Homo sapiens: one gene and its partner. The protein of the gene in region 2 purifies or fractionates together with the protein of the main gene of each other region. This does not show direct contact. Each region holds a gene or a part of one and is shown on either strand. Other genes may lie near its edges.

Region 1 (2,729 bases), on a different chromosome or scaffold from region 2:
ACCCCTCCTCCAGACCACCCTCCGCTCCCCACCCTGGAGGCTTGAGACTGCTGGCACTGGAGCAGCCCACCAATGGACACCCACCGTGTGCCGTTCAGCCTCCCACAGTGCTGTGGAGACTGCAGGAAGGAGGAGGAAGCAATGGGGCCAGAGGCCCTGGGCGCCCTCCCCACCTCCCCTGGCTGAACTCTCAGCAGGCACTGGGGGCACTTTGACCCCCCTCCTGCTCCTCTCCTCCTGTGGAGAGCCAGATGCTGGCGACAGCTGGAGGGCCCGGCCTTCCTGGCACACAGTTCTGCCTGCACCAGGGATGGATTCATTTTAATAACTTCATTTCACCCTCATGCACACTGCCGCCTCATCCCTCCTTTCCACCTTCCCCAGTAGCCTGGCTGCTCTCCTCAGCTAGGACTTCGCTAACAGATTTCCTCCCAAACCTTAATTCTTTGGAATAGCCCTCTGGTCCCTACTGTTCTTGCCAGATACTTCTGTGCCCGCTTGGTCCTCACAAGGGCAAGGGGTCCATCCAACTTCCTCTGGCTAAGAAGACGTCACCTCTGCCCCATTGGCGAGCAGTGTCCCCATGGTGATGCCCCCCCACCATCACGACGAAGTGCGCTGGCCTCCCACTCTTGCCATGCACACACTCACAGGAGATTCCTCTGAAGAAACCTGTCCCCACTCTGCCCAGACCCCAAAGGGCCAGGTCCTACTCACACTCCAACCCGTTGACCTTCCCCATCCACTGCCCTTCAAGGCAGTCTGAAATGCCCTCAGACCGTTTAGCGGTCCCGTGGTCCTCCACCCTAACCCCTCAGCCCAGCTGGGGGCTGCCGGGGGCCTTGTCTCCTCCATCAGTGGAGCCTCTGGGACAAGTTTACCAGGCTGGGGGTTCTTTAAGGACACAGCTTGGATCTCCCCATCAGGCTGGGGAACACCTAGGGCCGGGGGCCATGCCTCCCTCATCAGACTGAGGACACCCTGATGTCAGGGGCTGGATGGCCCCTTAGACTGGGGGTCCCTGAGGGCAGAAGCTATGCCTCCCCTCATCAGACTGGAGTCTCCCTGAGGGCAAGAACTGTGCTATGGATGGGAGGGGGACAGCTTGCCTTTTCCTAGGCATCAGAGCACCTGGAGGCTGCCTCTGCCCTTCAGCTTTGCTCAAAGGCGCTGTCTGGGTCTCAGCATTCCTTTCTCAAGTAGGGTGAATCTCCTAGCACTCTGTGAAGCTAATAAGGGGGATTACCCGTTAGGTCAACTGGTAGCAATGCCCGAGTCTCCTTCTCGATGAAGCTTAAGGCAAAAGCAAATGAATATCTAGGTCCCTTCCCCCCCTTCCCCCCTTCCCTTTCCTGGGATGAGCAAGCGGGAACTGAGTCACCCTGTTCCCCATCCTTGGCAGGAATGCTGGTGACCTTGCATTGTGGCAGATTCAGGTGGCGAGGCCCATTGCTCGAGATGCACCTGGTGGGTGGGTGGCAGGGATCCTGGGGGAGTGTTTATGGGGACGGAGGCAGCTGAAGGGCAGGGAGGGGTGACCAGGTGCTGGGATCATCGAGTGAGTATGTGCAGGAGGGATTGTAGAGACACAATGAAACAGTTGCTCTGTGTTGGGAAGTGATCCAGTGTCATCGCTGGGAGTGGGAGACAGAAATGTTACTTCCAAAGATTCCGAGTCCTGTGGTACTGCCAGGAGAACCGGGGGCTGGGGTGATGGGTAAGGAGAGGCACCATTAGCCCCGCCAGGCAGAGGCAAGATGGGGTGGGGGCGGCACCTGCCAATTATGCCAAAGTCTTGGAGTGGCAGCTGGCACCATCACCAAGGCACAAATGCCAGCAGAGACCTGGCACTCACCTGGGTTGTGATTCCATAGGGCCCCTGTCTCCTGTTGGTCTCCCAGGCTCAAAGGCTGACCTGATAATTCAAGTGAAGGATGCCTAGTTCAAGGCCTCCCAGTTCCTCATCCCAGGCCACCTGGTCAGGTGGTCCCAAGGGACAAGCTAGGTCCTCCTGAACTGCAGAGGCTGCCAATAAACTGGCAACACAGGTGTTGCAGGAAGATATAGCTGGGTCCTCATCCTGGGTCTGTAATTTATTAGACGTGTGGCTTTGGACAAATGACATAATTTCCCAGAGCCTCCTTAGATAAAAAACTAGGGCTTTGCTTACCTTGGCGTATTGTTAGGAAAATTAAATGAGTTGCTCAATAAATGTTACTTCCTCCTGTCTTTTTTTTTCTAAGATGGGTTGTTGTTAACCTTGGCCTTGCTCCTGGTGTGGACAGGGGAAAGGGTCCCAGGCTGGAGGTAGGAGACCTAGGTTCCTATCCTGGTTCCACCCCATCATGCATGTGGCAAAGATTTCTAATTGTCCCATAATACCCATTTTCCCTTTCTCCATAGTAATGGGATTCTCTGATTTTAGCTGGGCATGTGGCTGCCTGAAATAACTACTGCATTTCTCAGCCTCCCTAGATGTAGTCATGTGACTAAGATCTGGCCAGTGACATTTAAGCCAAAGGTTTAGGTGGCACCTTCCAGAAATTGTCAGACAGCTGATGTGCACTCTTCGTCCCTTTGTTCCACCCTCTATCCTGCAGCCTGGAATAGGTACGAGACTGCTGCCATCTTAGACCGGCGGTAAGAGCCACACCCTAGAGGTGGCAGAGCAGTGAGTTGGAAGAAGTCTTGGTCCCTGGGAATGTTGTGGAATAGAAATACCATACCAG
Region 2 (3,872 bases):
GGATAACAGGCATGAGCCACTGTGCCTGGCTAGAACATCTTTTATAAGAAAAATGAAAGCATCCAGGAGTTCTATTTTCCCTCAAAATGTAGCAAAAATCTGATATAACATAGTTGACCAGAAAATGTACTGTAAAACTTTTTTTTTCTTTTCGAGGCAGAGACTCACTCTGTTGCCAGGCTGGAGTGCAGTGGCATGATCTCGGCTCACTGCAACCTCTGCCTCCCAGGTTCAAGCAATCCTCCTGCCTCAGCCTCCCAAGTAGCTAGGACTACAGGCGTGTGTCACCACGCCCAGCTAATTTTTGTATTTTTAGTAGAGATGGGGTTTCACCATGTTGGCCAGGATGGTCTCAATCTCTTGAGCTTGTGATCCACCTGCCTCGGCCTCCCAAAGTGCTGGGATTACAGGTGTGAGCCACCACCCCCGACCCTATTTTTTTTTAAAGAGTATCTACTTTGATATATATATATTTTTTAATCTTCACAAACCAACTCTGAAACTGACGGGACCTGGGAAGAAAAATAATCAACAATTCTAATTCCAAAACCAAGAGGAAATAAATGTCAAAGATAAGCTTCATAGACAGCCAAAAGAACTTCTAAAATGTTTTTTCAGGTGGATGAATACATTTCTGATCTGAGAAATCACAAGAAAATCTGACTTTCAAAACAATTCTAACGGACGTTTTCTCTTTAAAACAGACAGAACGGAATACTAGGAAACTTGAAAGAAGACACACTCAACAGTCTCCAAAACCATGGTCCTAATCCCAAAAGATCACTGAGCATCTCTGAAGCCACTGGGCATATAACACCAAGGCTCCACGGCTGTGAGAGTTCAGCCTCTACTTTCCCAAGCTCTTATCTTTACAAACCACCATGTAATGCTCACAACTGACATCTCCCCAGCAGTACGCCTGTCTGGAAGCCCACACATCCAAGATCGTTACCAACTGCAACTTAAATGGTCTTACCAACTCCTGTTTCCTCAACTTCATCCACATCTATGACCTGAGGGTGCTGCTGGTGAAAAGTCTCCACTGCCAACTGGAAAGACCTGGTTCTCTCTGTGGGAGGTCCAAGGGGCCTTTCGGTAGCTGCCCGGCGCGGGGAGAGGACGCTGGGCACACTGTATGTGTCAGCACCTCCCCTTCTCAGAGCCTTGTAGGAGAAGGGCGTGGTGCCCACATCCTCCAGGCCCAGACGAGTGGTCGCCAGGTCATAATCTTCATCCTCATCATCATACTCTGCCCCATCTTCAGTTCCGAGGATCACGTCTGCAGGCACCACGCCATTGGTGGTGGCTGGACTCCCAATCTCAAACACCCAGACACCCTGCTGCCCAGAGTTACTACTCCTAGGAGGAAGGACAGGCTTCTTAGAAACAGGCCAGCAACCCACCAACAGCCACCACTACCCAAGCAGAGGGAGCCCTGAGGATCTGTGTTGGTCTGCAAGCCATCACCTGCAGCTAGGACTGGAGAGTGGAAGGGCACTGGCCGTCATGTCTGGGCGTCATGTGGCTGAGGCAGTCTAGGGCTGTCTGGTGAGACTGTGTCCAAATGGGCACAATACTAGCACAAGCTCAGTCCCAGCCATTCCAGAAGTGTGCTCCAGGGACACTATCAGGACTTAAAATTCAACTTGCTCATCCTAATTGCTGGTTACATGCTCTACCTTATGAGCTAAGGTGGCTCATAGGACTGACAGTGGCTTTAGGACTGAAGTCATTCATGCTCTCCACTATCTCTTTCCATGACATGGTATGATACAATTGAAAATACATGTTTGGTCTCTGTCCTCACATTCTGAAACAAGAGCTCCTACAGCCTTTGGAATTTCTGAAGTGATAAGAGTGTCTTTTGTAGGCTAATGAGTTGACTGATGGCTGGGAGCTCCTAGACAGTTTCAGGATGGGGGCTGGTGGCCAGAAAGACCAAGGCATGATTAGAAGGTTGGAATGTCCAGCTTTCCCCACTGCCTCCAGGGAGGGGAGATGGGCTGGAGATTGAGTCAATCACCAAGGATCAGTGATTTAATCAACTGTGCCTATGAAATAACACCACCATAAAAACCCTAAAATGATGGGGTTCAGAGAGCTTCTGGGTTGAACACATCAAGGTGCGGGAAGGCTGGTGTACTCAGAGACGGCATAGAAACCCTGCCCCCTTACCCATACCTTGTCCTATGCCTCTCTTCCATTTGGTTGTTCCAGAGTTGTATCCTTTAGAATGAACTGGTAATAGTGAAGCATTTTTCTGTGTTATGTGAGCCATTCTAGCAAATTATCAAATCTGAGGAGCATGCCATGGAAACCCTCCATTTATAGCTGGTTGGTCAGAAGTACAGGTGGAAACACAGGACTTGGGACTGGCATCTGAAGTGGGGGCAGTCCTGTGGGACTGAGCCCTTAACCTGTGGGGTCTGCAGTAACGCCAGTGCTAGAATTGAACTGAAGTGTAGGACACCCGGCTGGTGTGCAGAGAATTGGTTGGTGTGGGAAAAAAAACCCCACCCATTTGGTGTCAGAAGTGTGAGTGAAAACATTGCAGACGTGGTTTTTTAGAAATCCCAACTCCAGGGCCGGGCGCGGTGGCTCACACCTGTAATCCCAGCACTTTGGGGGGCTGAGGAGGGCAGATCATGAGGTCAGGAGATCGAGACCATCCTGGCTAACATGGTGAAACCCCGTCTCTACTAAAAATACAAAAAATTAGCTGGGCGTGGTGGTGGGCGCCTGTAGTCCCAGCTGCTCGGGACGCTGAAGCAGGAGAATGGCGTGAACCCGGGAGGCAGAGCTTGCAGTGAGCCAAGATCGTGCCACTGCACTCCAGCCTGGGCGACAGAGCAAGACTCCATCTCAAAACAACAACAAAAACAACAAAAAAAGAAATCCCAACTCCATTGGCTGTGAGATCTTGGACTAGTCTCAGTTTACCTTTGGTGCTTAAAGGATATGGTGAAAAGCAAATGAGATACAAAATCCAAAAGCATTTTATAACTATAAAATATAGTAGAATATCCCTAATCTCTACTTCTTCCTCCACCATTTTTACCATTCTTCTGTGTCTGTGATTGGAAGTGCTCCTATCAGAAATTACATGAAATAATTATATTATACGGTGGACAGAGGGGACATACATTACTCAGTGGAAAATACTGAGCAAAACAATGGGGTGGGGTGGGGATGATAAATCACAAAAGTCCTGCATAAATAGGATGTCTAATCAATTTGTCTGCCTGGGATTCAAGTAAAGACAGTGGTGTGTGGGAGCTTATATGGACTAGCTTGTGAGAGCTGGCTGTTAAAGTTTTAGGAATTTTGCAAGCCAGTTATTAAACACAGCCATTCTAAACAATTAAATTACATGAACTTCCAATTAAACAAGTTATATTTTTTAAAAGGAAAAAATATTCAAAACTCATCATATTCTAATCCTTTTGCTACTGTCCATGCTCTTGAAATTATATATATTAAACCTATTTTATCTTTATGGTGAGAATATATATAATGGTGCATGTTTTCTGAACTCTTCAATGAGTGACATGACGTTAATAACTTGAACTTGGCCATCGTAGGAGTATTTACATCACAGAAACAGGCAAACGCTATAAATCAGGTTCCTCTGCCCTCATAAAACCAGTTGTTAAGCATTTACCAGCACATCACTAAGTGAAGGGCAGAGGAATTCAAGCTAGATTTGAAGATATAAAATTAAAAGGTGGTTTTAGGGGATTCACTCTTGGTTTTTAAAGAATAATGGGAGAGGAAAGGTTTTAATCTTCAAAATCCAATTTGGGCTTTTCCCTCTTTTGTCAAATTCTACAACATAACCTGAGAGCACCATTTCTGTTGTAAGAATATTCCCC

The links. The genes of interacting proteins can lie anywhere in the genome.
Region 1: the proteins of NID1 (region 2) and NXPH3 purify together in Homo sapiens (co-immunoprecipitation; one large-scale study listed by IntAct). This does not show direct contact.

Annotation. Positions count from the first base shown.
Region 1 is NC_000017.11:49,581,599-49,584,327, forward strand, and holds the end of NXPH3 (neurexophilin-3 precursor), read left to right. Parts: 3' UTR 1-2,229; downstream 2,230-2,729. UniProt on the Homo sapiens protein: May be signaling molecules that resemble neuropeptides. Ligand for alpha-neurexins.
Region 2 is NC_000001.11:236,040,934-236,044,805, forward strand, and holds part of NID1 (nidogen-1 precursor), read right to left. Parts: intron 1,360-3,872; coding exon 977-1,359; intron 1-976. UniProt on the Homo sapiens protein: Sulfated glycoprotein widely distributed in basement membranes and tightly associated with laminin. Also binds to collagen IV and perlecan. It probably has a role in cell-extracellular matrix interactions.